Homo sapiens: one gene and its partners. The protein of the gene in region 3 interacts with the protein of the main gene of each other region in a biochemical or structural test. Each region holds a gene or a part of one and is shown on either strand. Other genes may lie near its edges.

The links.
Region 1: the proteins of ITGA5 (region 3) and LGALS3BP form a complex in vitro, tested with the Homo sapiens proteins (one study listed by BioGRID).
Region 2: the proteins of ITGA5 (region 3) and TIMP2 form a complex in vitro, tested with the Homo sapiens proteins (one study listed by BioGRID).

What each region holds. Positions count from the first base shown.
Region 1 is NC_000017.11:78,970,714-78,976,990, forward strand, and holds the end of LGALS3BP (galectin-3-binding protein precursor), read right to left. Parts: intron 5,444-6,277; coding exon 5,252-5,443; intron 4,107-5,251; coding exon 3,975-4,106; intron 2,510-3,974; coding exon 2,257-2,509; intron 1,992-2,256; coding exon 863-1,991; 3' UTR 542-862; downstream 1-541.
Region 2 is NC_000017.11:78,873,292-78,880,399, forward strand, and holds part of TIMP2 (metalloproteinase inhibitor 2 precursor), read right to left. Parts: intron 629-7,108; coding exon 528-628; intron 1-527. UniProt on the Homo sapiens protein: Complexes with metalloproteinases (such as collagenases) and irreversibly inactivates them by binding to their catalytic zinc cofactor. Known to act on MMP-1, MMP-2, MMP-3, MMP-7, MMP-8, MMP-9, MMP-10, MMP-13, MMP-14, MMP-15, MMP-16 and MMP-19.
Region 3 is NC_000012.12:54,402,254-54,409,361, forward strand, and holds part of ITGA5 (integrin alpha-5 precursor), read right to left. Parts: intron 7,100-7,108; coding exon 6,979-7,099; intron 6,702-6,978; coding exon 6,640-6,701; intron 6,549-6,639; coding exon 6,503-6,548; intron 5,983-6,502; coding exon 5,857-5,982; intron 5,624-5,856; coding exon 5,579-5,623; intron 5,440-5,578; coding exon 5,396-5,439; intron 5,254-5,395; exon of another isoform or gene 5,144-5,253; intron 3,674-5,143; coding exon 3,617-3,673; intron 3,464-3,616; coding exon 3,411-3,463; intron 3,122-3,410; coding exon 2,913-3,121; intron 2,642-2,912; coding exon 2,450-2,641; intron 2,321-2,449; exon of another isoform or gene 2,245-2,320; intron 2,223-2,244; coding exon 2,177-2,222; intron 1,994-2,176; coding exon 1,892-1,993; intron 1,714-1,891; coding exon 1,658-1,713; intron 1,527-1,657; coding exon 1,372-1,526; intron 1,072-1,371; coding exon 934-1,071; intron 798-933; coding exon 730-797; intron 78-729; coding exon 1-77.

The DNA of each region.
Region 1 (6,277 bases), on a different chromosome or scaffold from region 3:
GAGGTCAAGAGTTCAAGACCAGCCTGGCCCACATGGTGAAACCCTGTCTCTACAAAAATACAAAAGTTAGCCAGGTACGATGGCAGGTGCCTGTAGTCCCAGCTACTCAGGAGGCTGAGGCGGGAGAAGCACTTGAAACCGGGAGGTGGAGGTTGCAGTGAGCCAAGATCACACCACTGAGCTCCAGCCTGGGCGACAGAACAAGATTCTGTCTCAAAAGTAAATAAAATTTTAAGAGCACACCTACCCAGATAAGGGGTGAGGGCACCCGTCACAGCCAGACTTTCATGAGCACACACACGCCTGTGCACATGCAATCACACACCCACGTGCACGCATGCAGTGGCACGCACCCTCCTGCTCGTGTCCCACTGTGTCATTGCTCCGGGCTGGGAGGTGTGCTTCCTGTTCCCTGTCTTCCCCGTTAGCCTGTAGCTTCACAAGGACAGGGACTCTGCCTCATGACCTGTCCCCCAGAGCCTGGCACACCTGATGTCTAAACACGGTGTGGACCCAACAACACTTTCTGTACAAACAAATGTAGGAACCTCAATGTAATTTTAATGACCTCAGACCAGTGACAAGGGCAGACTGACCAGGGGCTGTGGGGGGATCCCAGAGCAACCTCGAGGGCGTCCTGGTGCTTACCACCTGGAAACTGGTGAGGTGGTGGGAGAACTCCTGGTGGACCCTAGTGGAAGCCTTCCAGTAATTTCTTGAAGCTGAGCGCTCAGGTGAGTAGGGCGACATCTGGTGGCCGGTTGTTGAAGGTCATTGCAGAGAGGAAGGAAGCCGAGGAGGGGAGCCTGCAGTGAGGGCGTCCTGGGGTTCTCCGGTTCTCACCACCCTTGGGCCACGCCGTCTAGTCCACACCTGAGGAGTTGGTCAGGTAGAAGGGGCGGATGACCGTGCGGAAGCCGTTGAAGTGCCCTGCCGGGCAGGGGAAGGAGGAGGTGCTCTTCGAGCTGTTGGTGTCCAGGGCACTGGGAATCGCAGCCTTCCAGCCCTCGAAATCGGTGACGTCTGCCACGAAGAGCCCTTCGCAGAGCATCAGGGCTTTGTTTTCGTAGGCAATGGTGCGATCTGAGCCGCCAGACTTGGTGAGGCCCAGGACAGGGAGCTCGTCCGAGGAGCAGGAGAAGCCGTAGTTCCAGCAGCTCTGGATGGTGGGGAGGTAGACCAGGGACCAGGACACCCTCTTGTCCTGGAAGAGGAAGCTGGGGTGTTGTGGAGTCTGGAAGGACTGGTAGGGGTAGTATCTGTAGTCAGAGGGGGCTTGGAAGTAATCAGAAGAATATTTGACCAAAGGCCCCCGTCTGGACTGATAGACCAGTTGTGACTTCCGTGCACTCCAGGAACTGTCTGTCACAAAGGCACTCCAGGTGGGCGAGGTGTAAATCCGGGGCTTGTAGGTATCCTCGGTGAGGTTCAGGCCTTTGTACCGGGCCAGCAACTGGAAGGGCACAGTGTGGAATTCCAGGGCCTGCAGAGTCTTCTTCTGGAACAGGGCCTCGTGGCTCCAGTACAGGGACAGGTTGAACTGCAGCTCAAAGAGCTCCTCAGGGAGCATCATGGGGAAGCGGATCTTCTCCACCAAGCCCTCCACCTCCTCATGGGAGGCACGCTCCCCCCAGCTCCAGGTGTCCACGGCCTTCAGTAGGGCCAGCTCGCTGGGCACCGCCAGGTCGCTCCTGGGCAGCAGCAGTTGGAGCAGGTCTGTGGGGACACTGGGCCAGGCCTCGGCCTGCGTCAAGGCCTCGAAGTTCCAGGCCAGGAACTGTAGGCAGAGCTTCTCCAGCAGGGCGTCCCCTGTGGCCACTGCATAGGCATACAGGTCCAGGGGCATCTGGAACGAGGGGTCCTGGGGGAGGAGGATGGCAAAGAGGCTTGCGCAGTAGCCCTGCAGCTGCCTGGCCCCATAGGCAGAGGCCAGCTTGTGGAAGCACTTGACTGACGACAGGGTGATGTCAATCCTTCGGGAGTAGAAGTACCTGGGGAGAAAGAAGGAGAGCAGATGCCGGCCCCACAGGACAGCAGGGGAGCCCTGGGCCCAACTGTCCAACACAGCCACCTGAGTGCACACAGTGTGGGAGTGAGCATGCGTGTGTGTGCAACTGCGTGAGTGCATGTGTGACTGCGTGTGTACATGTGCATGCATGAGTATGTGCAGGTGTGTGTGTGGGGGGCTGTGCTTTTGAAGAGGGGAGGAGGACAAAGCCCCTGGCGGCCCCAGAGCCTGAGGACGAGACGGCTCACCTGAGAAGGTCCCTGACCATGGGCACACACTCAGCATCCACACTCATGGTGACATTGCTGCCCGGCTCCTTCCACAGGGCCTGGGCCTCCAGGTTGGCAGTCAGGATGACCGTGTGGCCACAGAAGCCCAGGGCGTCCTCGCCCTGCACATTCACGCTGATGGACAGGTCGCAGCCCCGCTGGCTGTCAAAGATCTGGCCAAGGGCCTCCGAGAGCTCCCTGGAGAGGTCCAGGGTGTGGGTGCTCCTGGTTTCTAAGAAGGGGCGGGAGGGAAGTGGGCTGCGTTAGGAGCCGGGGCACTGCCACTCTCTGGGGTCAGTGTCTTCATCTGAAAGTGAGGGATTTGTGGCTGCCTCATTCACTCTGGAAGGCTCCTGGGAAGACGAGGGACAAGAGAGACCGGAAGTGTCGGATTCCTGGACCCTGAGGCCCCGCCCCTTCCAGCCCTGGGGAACAAGAGCAGCTAGGACCTGGCCAAGCCTGTCCAGGCCCCCGCTTTAGGCCCTCTGCTCTGTGCTGCTCCCCCGACTCAGGCAGCAGCTCCGCATGGAGACTTGGTGGTACTGACTCCGGAGCCCCCACTCCCCAGCCTTGGTCACCAATCACCACTAACACCAAAACCACTGCCTGCTTAGATGGCCTGAAAAGTTAGGGTCCTGTGGCAACCCCATTTTAGAACTCCGGGGGTCCTCGAGCAGCTTCCTGTCGGGGAGAAGGCCTGCAGAAGTCATGGGAGGCTCCCGGCTCGGGGGTCAGTGTGGTGCACCCTCTCCCCTTCTTTGAGCCCCTCTCAAAGCCTAACTCAAAATGAAATCCCATAGGTTTTTCTTCGCCACAAATATAGTAGTTTTGAAGTAACTGTGACCTTTCAACCAGGTGGGCTTGCCCTGGGCCTCCTAAAACCTGAGCCACCGCAGGACCCCCAGCTCCCTCCCACCTGCACGCCTTACCACAGCTCTCCTGCCCCAGGAGCTTTGGCCGTGCGCCCATGGCCCCGTGTGCTCCCCGCCGCCTCCCCTGGCCCCCGACAGCCCCATGGCGTCTCCTGGGCTTCCCCCACTGTGAGTCCAGGCTCAGCTCCAGCCACTTGTCCATCCCATGTGGGCACAGGGGCTCCCTGGGATTCGACCCGTCCTGCCTTAGGGGCCTCCAACTCCTGGCAAAGGGCAGTGGGCAGGAAATGCCCAGGTTGTCACGTGCAAGCCCAGGAAGAGCCACCTCGGCATGAAAGAAAAACAAGAAACTCAGATCCAGAGGCTCCAACCTGCAGAGCAGCCTGGGTTCCCTCCAAACTGGGCCAGGTTGGGGGAAGCAGGCTGAGGCTGCGAGTAGCCGGGACTCCCTCCGCCAGGACGGGCTTGAGCCTGTCGCGTGCTGTGAAGTGTATTTCTGAGCGGACGCTGGCATTTCAGGTCAGGCTGGAGCCAGGTGTCATGCTCACTGAAACTGTGGCTCACTGCCCCACACTCGGGTTCTGCATGGAGACTTGGTGGTTCTGGGTGTTTCTCCAGAAGGGGCTGGGGAGGAGTCTGGGACTGTGGGACTGGGAGCTGGTGGGCTCTTGGGACGTCTGGGCCTCTCCATGCGGAGTGGGCAGGCGGTAGTGGAAGGAACCTTTGTGTGCTTCATGTGCGTGGGGGGGTGGTGCTGGGAGGGGCAGGGGCCACGGGACCCCAGGGCACACTGGGGCCTCCGCAGGGAGGTGCGCCCCCGCTCACCATTGGTGCAGACCACACCAGCGTCTCTCTCGTGCCTGCAGTTGCTCTTCAGCCAGCCCAGGGACTTGCAGTCGGCCAGTGAGGCCTCGGTTCCCGTGCACTGGACCTCATCCAGCATGATGGGGCCTGATCCTGTGGACACAGCAGATGGCAGGGCTGGGGGCGTGACGACTGCACCCAGGAGTCCCACAGCGCGACTCAGCCCTTTGTTCTCCGCCCCGGCCGTGTGGGTCCATCTGCTTACAGGTCCTTCACCAGCGAACCACGGAGGATATTCCAGCATGGGCTGGATTTGTGATTGCAATGTCAGGCCATAAACTTAGCCTTCATGCTTATAAAGCTTACCGGCTGCTTCAGCGACATCACATTCATGTATAGTAATTGTGTGACTATCCCTGCAACATCAGTTTCACATACTGTAATTGTGTGACTATCCCTGCAACATCAGGTTCACATACTGTAATTGTGTGACTATCCCTGCAACATCAGGTTCACATATTGTAATTGTGTGACTATCCCTGCAACATCAGGTTCACATACTGTAATTGTGTGACTATCCCTGCTGCTAAATAGTTTATGGATTGTTTCTTTTTTTTCCAGAATCGCAACTGCTGTGTCAGTGGAAATCTTCCTGCAGACTTTTCTTTTGAGGAGAAATTGTTTCAATGGGATAAACTCCCTGGAGTGGAGTTTCTGGGCCGGAGGGAACGAGCCCAGCCGAGCTCTTGAACCTGCCCAAGCACCCGCCACCATCACTGGCCAAGTGTGGGTGGAGCAGTCCCATCAGAACTTGATCCGCAGGCCTTCAGCACCATTGAAAATGTTTGCTCATAGGCCGGGTGTGGTAATCCCAGCACTTTGGGAGGCTGAGGCGGGCGGATCACTTGACACCGGAAGTTTAAAAACCAGCCTGGCCAACATGGTGAAACTCTGTCTCTACTAAAAAATACAAAAATCAGCCGGGCATGGTGGCAGGTACCTGTAATCCCAGCTACTCAGAAGGCTGAGACAGGAGAATCACTTGAACTCAGGAGGCGGAGGTTGCAGTGAGCCGAGATTGTGCCACTGCACTCCAGCCTGGGCAACAGAGCGAGACTCCATCTCAAAAAAAAAAAAAAAAAAAAAAAAAAAAAAAAGTGTTTGCTCTTGCTAAATTAATAGGAATCCAATTTGCATGTCTTTGAAACCTGACTGTTTCGTCTTAGGGGATTTGCCCCTCCTGGGAGCTGGCTGTGCTGTGGGTCTCAGCCTCAGTGGAAGGGGACAGCAGGCCCTACCTTGCCCGAAGGCAGCTCTGCCCAGAGCCTGGGTGGCGTTCTCGAAGCCCAGGGCCCGGCAGACGACGCTGGCATCAGTCAGGTCCCACAGGTTGTCACACACAGTGCCCCACTGGCCTCTGTAGAAGATCTCCACGCGGCCCTGGTTGGTGGCGCCCCCATCGGCCAGCCGCATGTCACCATCGTTCACGCCTGCAGGCAGAGACCAGCGAGGGCGAGGCTGGGGCCTGCAGCACCCACCGCCCACACCTCCAGGCCCCATATGCTGTCCTGGGTCTCCCCTGCTGAGCTTGTATTTCAGGGCTTCAAGGTCCCCTGGCCTCTCCATGAGGGGCACCTCCATGAGGGAGGAGTGGAAGATACATACAGCCCCCCCTACCCCGCAAGGAGGCCAAACTCGCCTTTCCTTGTTTTAGGGGTCTCAGCCCTTCACTCCATAGACAGAACAGGGGCAGAGAAGCCCTGAGTTCTCCAGCACTGGGAGTGGAGGTGGCAAGACCCTGAGGGAAGGATAGGAGGGGAACGGAGGCCCCGTGCTGACCCGCCCTGCAGAGGGTGTCTGCAGTTTGGGGGTGCTGGCCTATGGGGGCAGCAGGCCTAGGGACCCCTGGGAGCACAGGCAGAATGTTTCCAGGGCAGATAATGGGATTCCCCCGCCCCACATGTCCTTCTGGGACTCAGTCCACCAACACTCCAGCCCCTACAGGAGCTGACAGAGCCGGGCAGGAGCTGGGTGCCTGAATCCAGTCGGGGGTACATCTGGCTTCCATGGGGCCCCCAGGATGAGCATGAGCTTCCAGGGGCTCACAGTGTAAAGAATGTGAGGAAAAGCAGCCAGGACCCTCTGGAAGACTGACCTGCGTCCAAGGCCACTGACCTCACAACGGCCCCTGTGACTGCTGGTTTGATCAGCCCCTCTGGTTCCCTCTGGACGGAATGGAGGATTCCCTAGTGTCCTCTCTATAACCTGCATCTCACCTGAACCCAGGTGAGCCCCCGGGAACCTCCAAGTCATCATCACTGGGG
Region 2 (7,108 bases), on a different chromosome or scaffold from region 3:
CCCTGCCACATATTTTTTTTTTTTTTTTTTAATACAAGCTCTCACTCTGTCACCCAGGCTGGAATACAGTGGTGAGATGTCTCACTGCAACCTCTGCCTCCTGGGCTTAAGCGATTCTCCCACCTCAGCCTCCCGAATAGCTGGGACCACAGGTGGGCGCTACCATGCCTGGCTGGTTTTTTGTAGAGATGGATTTTCACCATGTTGCCCAGACTGGTCTTGAACTCCTGAGCTCAAGTGATCCGCCCACCTCGGCCTCCCGAAGTGCTGGGATTACAGGTGTGAGCCGCAACGCCCGGACAGGTTTCTGAAGGAATTGAATTTGTGGGGAGCATGTCATCTCCACACAACTTTTCAGGCATTCGAGGATTAAGGGAAATCGGATCTATTTGCAGCTTGATGACCTCATCCTCTGCTCTAGTCCACAGGTGGCCAGATCGTGTTCCAGGGACCCAGGCTCTCTGCCAACCCCAACACCCCACAGCTGTGCCCACAGTGCAGCCCGGGATGCCGGCAGCCACTATTACCTTTATCTGCTTGATCTCATACTGGATCCTCTTGATAGGGTTGCCATAAATGTCGTTTCCAGAGTCCACTTCCTTCTCACTGACCGCTTTGGCCCTGATCACTGCAAAACACAAGACACAGAGGTGAGGAGAGTTCCTGAAACACGCTCCTGGGGCTAAGGAGAGGGATAAGACGTCCAGGCCTGCGGGAGGTGCTGGGGGGTTACAGACAGCAGCAAGGTGCGAGACGGGCAAGGGGCATGGTGATCCCAGCCCCCGGCATGGCGTCTCCTCCTCCAGGCTGAGAGATGATGCCCAGCCTCCTCCTCCTCCTTCCACGATTCTTCAACAAGAATCCCTTCTTTGTTGACAGGGGCCCAAGCCAGAAGCCCAGAGTCCCTTGTGACCAAGGCAGTTTCTGTAACAGTGGGAGGCAGTCATTGATTTGACTGAAGCTCATCTGTTGATATCATGCTTGAGTGCTTTTGGCTTTTTTTTTCCTTCTCTCCAGTGGGTACTCACTGGTGGCTGGGGCAAGCAGGTACCCCATGGAACTGACCCACAATCCCACACATTCCGCGAAGGATGGGACATTTCCCCACCCTCCAGCCACGGCCTATTGGAAACAAGCTTTTCTGGGCTGAGGGCAGAGGGGGAGTTATCCACCTTAAAGGGGCCTTAAACGTACCCGGCATATTTAGCTTTGGGGGTCTTACATCTGGAAAGGTCTATCCAGCTCTTCTCATCTTTCCTGACCTGGAAAATGTTCTATGAGTAATTTTTGTTGTTGTTGTTATTGAGATGGAGTCTCGCGCTGTTGCCCAGGCTGGAGTGCAGTGGCACCGTTTTGGCTCACTGCAACCTCTATCTCCCAGGTTCAAGTGATTCTCCTGCCTCAGCCTCTCAAGTAGCTGGGATTACAGGCGTCTGTCACCACGCCCGGTTAATTTTTTTTTTTTTTCAGACGGAGTCTCACTCTGTCGTCCAGGCTAGAGTGCAGTGGCATGATCTTGGCTCACTGCAACTTCTGCCTCCTGGGTTCAAGAAATTCTCCTGCCTCAGCTTCTCAAGTAGCTCTGATTATAGGCAGCTGCCACCACACCCAGCTAATTTTTGTATTTTTAGTAGAGAAAGCGTTTCGCCATGTTGGCCAGGCTGGTCTTGAGCTCCTGACCTCAGGTGATCCACCTGCCTCAGCCTCCCAAAGTGCTGGGATTATAGGCATGAGCTACAGTGCCCAACCTTAATTTTTGTATTTTTAGTAGAGACAGGGTTTCATCATGTTGGCCAGGCTGTTCTCGAACTCCTGACTTCAAATGATCCACCTGCTTCGGCCTCCCAAAGTGCTGAGATTACAGGCGTGAGCCACTGCGCCCAGCCTGGGTGATTCTTTACAGTAACACAGAGTCTATCAGGGGCACAACAGGGGCAGGGGCAGGAAGTTTCACCCAAAGGAGACATCGGCAGGCACAGCTGGCAGACCCAAGGGACAGATGCTGAGGAAGGACAAACAGAAGGAAAGAGGATCCCAACTAAGCCCCAACCAAACAGAAAGGAGTTGGGGAAGAGGCTGGGCTGGGGCAATTCCAGAATATTCTGGAGCCTGAGGTTGCTGACAGGCCATGCAACACAGGGCTTTCTCCTAGCAATTAAGCCAGGATTCTGTTCCACTCCTGGTAACCTGAGGACAAGCAGATCAGTAGTTCATGCTGTCACTTGGGCAGGGTTGGGTAGAGCCCTCCCTTTCTTAATTTCAAGGCCATTAGTTGGTGACATGGTCTGTTTTAATGGCTTTAAAAGCTTTGCCCTCCCAAACTCAGCTCTTCAGGGTCACTCTGGGTAAGTGTTATGTTACGGTGGATATGAGCAAAACAGAGAGGTAAGGAGCAGACCACGCCAGGCTCCAGGCAGCCTCCTAGCCCCAGCCCCAGCCCCACCCCACGTGGTCGGCTCAAATCTCTTAGAACCCCTTAGGCAGGGCTGTCTCTTCCCACAGGGGCAAGGAGGCTCAGGCGTGTGGGTGCTCCATCTGTGTCCATCCCCCTGGGCCCCACCAATGCTCTCTGGATCCCAGGCTGGCATCAGAGTCCCACACCACAGCCCCACTGCCTCGCCTGGGCACAAACCCCTTTCTTCTTTCTTCTTCTGTTGGAGCTGAGTCATGACTGGCCAAGGCCACAGGTTCCTGTTTCCCAGGCTAATCCATGCCTCATCCTGAAAAGCCACATCTAGGAAATGTCTCCCGGCAGGCCACTCCAGAACAGACGGCTTTGCCCTGACGGCCCCCTATTTCCAGTGCCCTCCTAACCATCCTCTCATCCACCGCAACCAGCTGTCTTTTTTTATTCACGTTCGTTTCTGCTCAAACATCATCCTTGGCTGCCCCCTGCCCTCCCCTAAAATATGAGCGCCTTTGCAACCTGAAGTCAGCCAGGGGCCTCAGCTGCTGTGCCCAACACCCCCCACCCATGCTCCCACTATTCTACCACTTCATAATACTTGTCTGCCCTGAACACGCCCAGGTGCATCCACACCTCTGAACAGACAAGTTTCTTTCTTTCTTTTTTTTTTAGACAGAGTCTTGCTCTGTCATCCCCACCCCTGCTAGGCTGGAGTGCAGTGGCGCAATCTCAGCCATCTCCCAGGTTCAAATGACTCTCCTGCCTTAGCTTCCCAGGTAGCTGGGATTACAGGTGGGCACCACCATGCCTGGCTAATTACCATATATATTTTTTTGAGACGGAGTTTCACTTTTGTCACCCAGGCTGGAGTGCAATGGCTTGATCTCAGCTCACTGCAACCTCCACCTCCCAGGTTCAAGCAATTCTCCTGCCTCAGCCTCCTGAGTAGCTGGGGTTACAGGTAACTGCCACCTTGCCAGGCTAATTTTTTTTTTTTTTGGTATTTTTAGTAGAGACAGGGTTTTAGCATGTTGGCCAGGCTGGTCTCGAACTCCTGACCTCAAGTGATCCGCCCACTTTGGCCTCCCAAAGTGCTGGGATTACAGGTGTGAGCCACCACACCCAGCCTGAACAGGCAAGTTTCTTCCGCCCCAAATGCCATCTCCCCTCTCTGCCTGGAGAACTTTTCTTCATTCTTCAAGACCCAGCTAAAATAGCCCTTTTCTGTCTTCCTCTGGGAAATCCTGTCCTTCTGCAGCACTTGGTATATTCCCCATCTCTTTTCCATCCTGCTGTCAGTTCCTGCACACCTGTCTGCTCAGGGCCCTGGGAGGTCCTAACAGGTTGAGGCTAGATTCTGACTGCAGAACAGTTGGTGCTCACTAACTCTTTGCCAGATGGAGCTGAGATGACGCTGACAACTTTGGGCTGGTGGCCCAGGTGCAGTTTGTCCTTGGCTCTCTTGCTCCCTGCCTAATCTATATACCTTACGACAATGCTGCACCAAAAATGTTTATGCAAATTAGTCAATGTGCCAGATTAACTTGGTCAAAGTTTGCTCTTCATGTAGCAGAGTCACCAGCTCACAAGCAAACCAGGGCCAGGCACGGTGGCTCACTCCTATAATCCCAGCACTTCGGGAGGCCGAGGCGGGCGGATCACTTGAGGTCAGGAGTTTGAGACCAGCCTAGCCAACATGGTGAAACCCCATCTCTACAAAAAATACAAAAATCCCAGCCACTTGGGAGGCTGAGGCAGGAGAATCGCTTGAACCCAGGAGGTGAAAGTTGCAGTGAGCTGAGATCATGCCACTGCACTCCAGCCTGGGCAACAGAGTGAGACTCCGTCTTTTAAAAAAAGAAAAGAAAGAAAAGGAAAAAAAGCAAGCCAGCAGAATCCAAAGGAATCAACAGTTCCAGTAGGAGCAGCAAGCCGGCCTTTATTACAGTCTGCTGAATTCTGTATGTTATTTTGGAAATTTCTGGAGCTGCTTTTCTTTTCTTTCTTTCTTTTTTTTTTTTTTGAGATGGAGTCTAGCTCTGTCATCCAGGCTGGAGTGCAATGGTGCAATCTTGGCCCACTGCAACCTCCGCCTCCTGGGTTCAAGCAATTCTCCTGCCTCAGCCTCCCAAGTAGCTGGGATTACAGGCACGCGCCACCATGCCCGGCTAATTTTTTGTATTTATTTTAGTAGAGACGGGGTTTCACCATGCTGGCCAGGATGGTCTTGAACTCCTGACCTCGTGATCCGCCTGCCTCGGCCTCCCAACGTGCTGGGATTACAGGCATGAGCTACCGCGCCCGGCCTTGGAGCTGCCTTTCAATGGTCCACTAAGCCGCACAATGCTTAACGCACAATAGGCACTCAACAAGCATGTCACTGGAGTTCAGAAAATAAGCAAAGATTACTTCAAAACGGCCAAAATGTTGCATCCTACCATGGGCATTGAGGTTCACATGCTGTTCTCTTACAAAAACGCCTAAGGCTCCCAGGTGGCAGCTGGGCACTTATTTGAAGGAGGCAGCAAGAGACAGAGATCCTGCATTCACCCCTGGATGGCTGCGTGATCTTTGAGAAGCTCCTTGACTTCACTGAGCCACAGTTGTTCACACCTAAGACAGAGACGATGACAACAGTCTTGACACTTCACAAGGTCGTGGTGACTGTTAGAGGGGCTGGTGTGGAGGCTGCGGTGCCCGGGAACTAATGCGTGTACAGTTCAGGACCACGAGCATCGCATAGACAAGCAGGGCGAATTCTCCCGCTCCCGTGGGTGAGGGATTGGGACGGTGGCATCATGCCACTCAGGTACACAGACCCGGTCCTGGTCAGCAGGCCACAGACTCTCGATTTGATGCAGCTTCCCAGCGTGCTAGCTTTGCCTGGGGGCTGCAGATTACACACTTTCCTTCTTTAAAGTGTCAGAAAAGAGGAGGCTGGTCAAATCAAGGGTCCAGGGTAGCCACGTGGGGTTAGGACTAGAAAGTGAACTGGCGAGGAGGCCGCCAGATGCCTGCAGGGAAGTGGGGGTGAGGGGCAGGGAAGTGGGGGTGAGGGGCCTGGAGGAGCAGAGCCTGAGGGCATCTCCATCTCCCCTGGGCTGCTTTAGTCTGCCCCTGGGGAACAGAATTCAGATTCTTCAGGGTCCCTTTAAATTGGGGGTGGGCACCTCCTCCCCCACTTTGCAAAATGAGAAATTACATGAAAGAAGGAAAATGGGAATCAAGAGAGGCAAAGAAGGACCAGTTCCACGGCAACCTTCCCCAAAGCACCAGCACGCCGCAGACATGAAGGAGAGGGGCCAGCTGACAGCTCTGATCGGTGCACACCAGTTGGCATAGCGGGATCTGCACCGCTGACCTGCTCAGAGCAGCGGGTACCTGTCGGGGGTTGTTGCCCAGAGGTGACAGCAGGTGAAGAGAGGGTACAGGGTGAATCCTGCATACAGCAGGCCTTGCCTGGGAGGAGCATCCAATCCAGGCAAGATGACAGACGATGGATAGGAACACAGAGAAGGAGAGTTTCCAATGCCCAGTGGTGGACAGAGGAGGAGGGAGAGAGAGCTCTCCGGAATACATTTCCATGCCAATGGCAATGGTCCGCACTCTGAGCTCCAGGATGGACCACCAGTTCTGTAGGGGAAAGCAGGCCACTTCAAAAGAGGGAGGGCCTCTCCGAGTCCCAGGCCATGTGAAGAACAGGGCTGGGGAAAGCGAAGAGACATAAGGAATCTGGGAAGAAATGAAAATTGTGGCACAGACACGTTTACTGAACACCTACTGGGTGCTGGGCCTGGTGTTAGGCACTGGGGTGGGTGTCAGCCCATCTCCTGTCCATGCCCCCGAGAGGGGCTGCTCTGCTCCTCTGCCCCTTCCCCAAGGAGCCAGAGGCAGCTGCGAGAGGGGGAGTCTTTATAAAGACTCTCGTTCTAACTGCCCTGAGCCCAGAAACCACGGCCTCTCCCTGGGCGTCTCAGATTTCGTTTTTCCTTCTTTCCCTTCTGCTGTGAACACAACATCTGGGTTTGAGATCAAGGGTGATACACTGGCTGATGAATTCACCGCCAGATGCCGGCTACTGGAATGTACAACCGTCGGCTGAATTCAAAGCACACGCAACTGCAGGGTCCCCACCCCCACCCCTCCAGCCCAGGACACCATATGATGTCACTTCCCCCCTGCAAAAACAATCCCGAGCGCACCCGCCAGAGTGGGGACGGAAAAGAACCGGGTGGGCGGAAAACCAAGGTCGCGGGAGACGATCCAAAGAGGATGGGCTACGGTCAGACTTCGACAGTCACAACCGCCCCTGGAAAACCATCAGAGGCCGGACCGGCTGCTGCTGCTCTCGGAGGGGAGCAGACAGTGAAGGGGGCTTGCTGGAGAACCTGGTGTCACCAGCATGTGCCAGGGCCAAGGGCTGGCCGGAGGGGCGGCACTCTCCACAGACTCCAACCACGCCAGCCCCAGGCAGAGACGCCACGGCTTCTGTGGCACGGTCCTCCCTTGTTCTCTCTCCTCGGTGTCCCCTCTGCTGCCATCAACACGTGGGTCCTGCGTCCTCACGTCCCCTTCATACACCCACCAACATCTTTCCAATCCTCCTGTGTCCACAGAAGTACTATGGAAGTTCCTGCGGAAAATAAGAACAAGCCATGCCCACAATTGGGGGAGGGAGACAGACCCCAAAAGAAAATTGCC
Region 3 (7,108 bases):
CACCCTCACCCACATTCTGGGCATGGAAAGTGAGGTTCAGGGCATTCTTGTCACCCAGGTACACATGGTTCTGCTCCCTGGAAGGGACACAGAGGGTAAGGGACATTGGTGAATTAATCCTCAAACCAGGACAAAGGACCATTATAAGAGTAGTAATACGAGGCCGGGTGTGGTGGCTCACACCTGTAATCCCAGCACTTTGGGAGGCTGAGGCGGGTGGATCACGAGGTCAGGAGTTCAAGACAAGCCTGGCCAAGATGATGAAACCCTGTCTCTACTAAAAATAATAATAAAAAAATTAGCCCGGCATGGTGGCAGGCACCTGTAATCCCAGCTACTTGGGACGCTGAGGCAGAGAATCGCTTGAACCTGGGAGGCGGAGGTTGCAGTGAGCCGAGATTGCGCCACTGCACTCCAGCCTGGGTGACAAGGGCATGACTCCGTCTCAAAAAAAAAAAAAGAGTAATAATAAAGTAACAATAGACACTGCTTACTGAGTTCTAACTCTATGGCAGGCACTAGGCTAGATTTTTTATGTAGATTATTTCATTTAATCTTTCCAAAAAGTCTGAGAAATAAATGCTACTATTCCCACTATACAGACAAAGGAGTTAAAGCTCAGAGCAGCTCAGCAACTTCCCAAGGCGACACAGCTAGTATGTCCCTAGCTGATTTTTTCAGGTGCCAGGTGCACCTGGAGCTCCCTAGCTTACCGTCAGCCCTACTTACCCAAACACTTCCAGCTGCAGGTCAGGCACACAGATGTTGTCTTCTCCACAGTCCAGCAAGATCTGAGCCTGGGGAGCAGGGCAGCCTTGAGAGGGGAAGTTTAGACCCATTCCTGGGCTGTAGGCTCTTCTCTTTCCATGGCCCTGCCCCCCCAATACCCAGGCCTCTGTCTTCCCAGGTCCCTTCTCCCTGCCCTGTCCTCACCTTGTCCTCTATCCGGCTCTTGCTCTGATAATGTAGGGCTGGCCTGAGGCCGTGGCTGTCCACTGGGGCTTGGGGGTCCAAGGAGAAGTTGAGAGCGATGTGAATCGGCGAGAGTTTGTCTCGAAATTCTGACTCGTTCTGGGGCCAGAGGAGAGAGTTCACGGAGTCAGGGGACTCTGGAGACTTAGTGGCCCTGCTCCTCAGCCTCTCTCATCTCCCTTTGTCTGCTTAGGGCCCAATTCCGACCATCCTCATTGTTTCAGAGGCCCTGGCAGCCTGCTTCCCAGCTCCTCTGACAGAAGGTCTCCCTTTCTCAGCCCCTACAAGAGTCCCAAGCCCTTCACTGGAGTCCCCCAGTCTTTTTCCCTTCAGGAGGTGCCCTCAGTTCTGTGTGGCCACCCTCCCTGGCCAGTCCACACCCCGCCCTCTGGGCCATACCCTGAGGTAGATCTTCATCTCTCTGCAATCCTCTCGAGCCCCATTCTGGATGAGCAGGGTCTGGGTCAGGGTTGCCTGCCTGGAGGCCAGGAACAGTGCCCGCCGTACCCCTCCCTTCTGCTTCTGCCAGTCCAGCTGAAGTTCCACTGTGAAACCTGAAGCCAGGGACATATAAAGGGAAACTGCCTGTCTTTCCTCATCTTTTCAGAGAGAAGAAATGTCCCCAGGTCCCCAGTCCCTTCATTCTCTGTCCTAGGGCCTGAGAGATCCAGGCAGTCTCCCTCACCAATGGAGTCAGCAACGTGTTTTCCAGAAGCATTGAGGCAGAAGCTAAGGTTGATGCTGGAGAGAGACCAAGAAGAAAGCTGGTGAATCCAACTGGAACAGACATCCTATCCTCTACCTATCTCCCAGCCAGACCCAGACTAGGACACCACCATTTTCCCCTTTTTAAGGCAGACTTGGTGCCCCTGCCCACTCCCAGGCTCAGGTCTCTGCAATTTCCTGGGCACCAGCTCACCAGGCCACAGGGTTCCCCTCTAAGCTGCAGCTCCGCTCCTCTGGGTTGAACATGGCGGGGAAGATGGTGAGGGAGGCACTAGCGGACACGATGGGGCGGCCCCTGCCAAGAGTGAATGTGGGGTCAATAGAATTAGGACTCCTCTGTAACCTGGACACAGGAAACTGATGCCCAAGCGCCAGAATGTGTGTCCTCTGCATTGATTTTCCCAACCTCAGCTCTGTTGAGAAATTTCCAGTTCCAGTCCACCCAGGTTGTCCCCTCATCTCCCTTTGGAGCTCATACCTGTATACCACAGCCTTGTCCACACCAAAGGACCCCACAATCAGATCTGTAAGAAGTCAAGAAATCACCTCTTACAGCAAGCCCCAGATCAGGATCCTTTCTTCCTAACCCCTCCTGGTTTCAACGCTCAGGGAGGTTGAAGTGAGAAGACAGCGCCCTCTGTTGGAATTAGCCAGAACTGCACCCAGGAACTTAAGGAAAGGTGCAGAAGAGAGAGTAGGGGTCAGTGACCAGGGAATTTTAAGGTGAAAAGGGGCCTCAGGCACAACTCACCAGGATATCCATTGCCATCCAGGTCTCGGCCTCCTCGAAGGGCAGAGCCAAAGAAGTCTGGGGTGTGGCTGGCTGCCCACAGGGGCTGCAGAACCTGGGAAGGCTTAGAGCCCAGCCCTCCTGGGCCCCCAGGAAATACAAACACTACTCCCTGCTGGGTCTCCCCACCAAAGGGAGCCCCGATGGCCACATCTGGAAGACACAGAACACACACTAGTCAGCAGGCCAGGAATCCATGGGCTCTAATCTCTACTACCAGACCCCAGGACCTAGGATCCTATTTTTTCCCATCTGTCAGTCCCTATATTCTAATCTTCAAATCCCAAGACCCAGACAGTGGGATTTTAACCCCTCGGGAAGTCGTGGAGGTCTGGGTATCTTAGCTGACAGATGCCCTCTCCCCAAATCCCTTCTGACTTGGGCCCCTGCCTCCTCTTTCACTCTCTGAGCCCATGGTACTCACCATTGTAGCCATCCTGGTCCAGGTCCCCCAGGGGGGTCAAGGAGCTGCCAAATCGGCCAAACTCATCATGGCCAGTGAGGGTAAGGGTGGGCGTGGGCTCTATGCCGGCTGGGTGCTGCAGGTAGACGTAGACCCTGCCCACCTCCTGAGGCCGCCCGTCAGGGGTCCGATCCATGAGCAGGGGTGCCCCCACCAGCAAGTCATCCAGCCTGAGGGGAAGGGCAAACCCAGGCATCTCGATACCCTGTCTTGCCACCCCACCCCAATCCTAGTGCTAGAAATCCCGGACACTCTGAATTCCATCACGTCAGAAGACCTGAGGTCTCTGATCATCAGCTCTCAGCTCTTTCCTTGTCCCTGAGCAAGGGGAATGCAGGTATGAGCGAGAGTCTAGAGAAAAAGCCCTGGAGAAACTCTCCTTGCATTTTCTGTCCCATTCCCACTCTTCCCTCTTGGTTCTGGGAGGGTATCACAGTGCGCTCATTTCCCACCACTCACCCGTCCCCATTGACGTCTGTGGCGGCCACTGCATAGCCAAAGTAGGAGGCCATCTGGGGAGGACAAAGGGGCAGCGCTGGGTCAGAACTAGAAGGTTCAATCCACAGGATCAAGAGGGGCTGGGAAGTTGGGCTGACATTATTAGGTCAGGGCTGGGGCTTCGTTGACAGAGGCCAAGCTGGGGTGGGGTTGAGGGGTATCCTTACCTGTTCCCCTGAGAAGTTGTAGAGGGATCGAATGTCTGAGCCATTAAGGATGGTGACCTGGGAGATGAAGAGATAGGCCCATTGGTCCTGGACTCCCAGAATATCCCATGGTTAAAGAACAGATGTGTACAGGACACCCAGGGGCAGGCATTCCTTAGAGACGCAGACCACTGTCCCTAGCTCCCTCTTCAGCTTTGCCCTCATATTCCCACCTCTATGCCAGGTAGTTCCACCCTATGTCTGCTTCACTATTTTTCTCCCTATCAATCACCAACCACTGACAGATTTTGTATTTATCTGTTCGTTGTCCCTCTCTACCCACTAGAATGTAAGATCAATAGGGGCAGGAACTTGATTTTGTTCTTTGCTTTCTCCTCAGAACCTAAAGTCATGCTTGGTGAGTAGTAGGCACTCAATAATAATTATGACTGAATGTGTGCTGGTGCCTCAAACCCATCACGTTCAAAACCTAAGTCATCCTCATCCTCCAGTCCCCCGAACCACAAACACCATTTCTCCCCTATATTCCCTTAGTGACTGGCCCCACCAGGCCTCTTGAATCCTGGTGTGAGCCCTTTCCCAGGACTGCTGGACAGATGTCTTGACAATGTCCCTGCCTCCAGCTCTCCCAGCAGATCTAGGAGGCTACCTCTGGCTTGGAAATCCAGTGGCCCCCTGCAGTCACTGCCCAAAGTCTCAACTTCTTGGCTGGTCCTCCAAAGCTCTGGAGAATCTGGCCCTAACCTATCTGTTTTTGCTCAACCTTTCCATATTCTACTCATCCTCAATCAGCTCATGAGTCTGCTAAGTTGGGCTGAAATTGTTTCCTTTTCTTCCACCTCATTCATGCTCCTGCACAGGATGCCCTCCTGCCTCATCTCTGCTGAACCTTCATAGAACCTTCTCTCATCTGTCCTCTTCCTTTTTAAAAATTTAAAATTTTTATTTCCTGACTCCCCAAACTTGTTACCATCCTTTTCCTAGAAAGGAGATTATTCTTTCCCCTAAACTGCTATGCCACTGTATCCACTTTGCTGAAGTTTACCAAAATGCAGAAAGAATGCTGATTTTGGATTAAGAGAGACCTGATTTTAAACCTACTTACTAACTGGGTGATCTTAAGCAACTTACTTGGTCTCTTAGAACCTCAGTGTTCTCATATGCAAAATACAGATGATAATATCTACCCCATAGGCTTGTTGTGAAGAATAGAAATCATGAATAGATAGTGCCTGATGCACTGAGTAGAGAATGAATAGTTGCTCCACTTTAGATCATAATTGTATGTGTGTCTTATCTAACATACTTGATTAGAAGCATCTTATAAGATGGGGTATGATACCTTATTCATCTTATCTCTTACCTTGCCTTAATAAATGTTGTTAATTGAATGAAATCCGATGGCACTCTTATCTGTATCTTTTAAAAAGCACTTGTCCTGGTCTAATAATAACATCTGCCAGTTGTACATTGCCTAACAATTCACTGAGTACTTTCACATGCATTTTCTCATTTCATCCTTGCCAGAGCCTCGTGAGGTCAGAACGATTGTTATCCCAGTATACAGAGAAGAAGAAGGCTCAGAGAGGTTCAGCAGGAAGCAGAGTATGAATAAAGAGCAGAATGATTCTGCCAGAGTAAGTGCCAGAACTTGAATGCCAGTCTGCCTCCAGAGCCCATGTTCTGATCCACCTTTTTGAGCCCTTGCAAACTGCCATGCACGGTTCTTTGTGATTAGGCAGGGGAGGAGAGGAAGTGAGGGGTCAGGCTGGGTCTTACATAGCCGTAAGTGAGGTTCCCTTTGGGCACACCAGCAACAAAGTCTGCAAAGAGAAGAGAAAGTTGTGACCTAAGGGTGGGGAAAGGGAAGCAGATAATGGTAAGTGGCCAAGTTCATGGGCTCTCTGGCCCTGTGCCTCTAACCATCCCCCTCCCTTGGCCCCAGCCTGGGGACACACTCACCTTCTGTGTCATCACCACTGAATTCACCAACAGCCACAGAGTATCCTGGGGGACAGGGTGGGTGGATGTTAGGATTCCTGCTTTGAGGACCCCTCTGCTCTGGCCTATCCACCAATCCCTTCCCCACCCCTACTGGGCCTTCATAGTCAGCAGGCACATGACAAGTATGGCAGGGGTGCTGGGGATGCCTGAGTAGGAGAGGGGAGGCGAGGGGGTGAGTGGGGACAGGAGCACTTGAGGTTCTCCCTCTGCCATCCCTTCCCCACTTGCTTGCTCACCTAGGTAGCTGTCATCATAGATGGAACTGGCCTGGCGAGTCTGCAGCTGCCCCTGAACCAGGTTGATCAGGTACTCGGGGTAATAAGATTCTGCAATCTGCTCCTGAGTGGCAGACAGGATCTGGCCTGGAGAGAGTATGAAGAGGGAGTAGATGGAGAGGAAGTGGCAGAGGGGGCTTGGGACTCTGGGGGCTGACTGGGTAGTATTTCAGAAGTCTGGTTCAAGAAAGGGAAGCATGGGGAGGGTGGTGGCATGTAAGCTTCAGGAAAGGAAGAGGAGAATTGGGAGTAGGGTGGGAGGCTATGTGCCAGGGGACTTAAAGAATGGCAGAAACAGGCAGGGCGCGGCGGCTCATGCCTATAATCCCAGCACTTTGAGAGGCCAAGAGGGGTGGATCACGAGGTCAGGAGTCCAAGACCAGCCTGGCCAAGATGGTGAAACCCCTTCTCTACTAAAATTACAAAAATTAGCCAGGCGCGGTGGCAGGCGCCTGTAATCCCAGCTACTTGGGAGGCTGAGGCAGGAGAATCGCTTGAACCTGGGCAGCAGAGGTTGTGCCACTGCACTCCAGCCTGGGTGACAGAGTGAGACTTCGTCTCAAAAAAAAAAAAAAAAAAAAAAAAGAATGGCAGAGACAGGACTTACCTTGCCAGAAATAGCTTCCTGGTCCACCTAAAACCACACGGCCAGTCTGTGGGTGAAAGGAGGGGAGTCCAACATCTGGTCCCAATCCCCCCATGTCCACCACCCACGGCCCCTTCTCTCCCAGACCACTCTCTCACCTTGGTGAACTCGGCACTGAAGCCTCCTTGGCAGTAACCCTGTCCTGCTGCCCAGCTGAAATCTGTGAGGGGAGAAGGTGGTGAAAATGAGCCCTGCATAGATGGGTCATCCAGGAAAGAAGAGAGGGCATAGGGAAGGAGGTGGGAGAGAGAACCAGAGAAAGGGCCTTCCTGGACCAGACAGTAAGCATAAAGGCTAACGAACTGGGTTAGCCTTTATCTTAAGCAACCTAGAACCTCATGGGGGCACATGGTAGGTGCGAGTCAACCCTAAGTATGTGAGACACTTCAAGTATATGAGAAGGCAGACATGGGGCACAGGCCCCCTCTTGCCCCTACCTGAGCGGCAGGGTGCATACTCCAGAATTCGGGTGAAGTTATCTGTGGAGAGGTAGCAGGTGCCCACGGGGTCGCTCAGTGGCTCCTTCTCTGTGCGCCAGCTGTACAGTGGAGCGCATGCCTGGGAGGG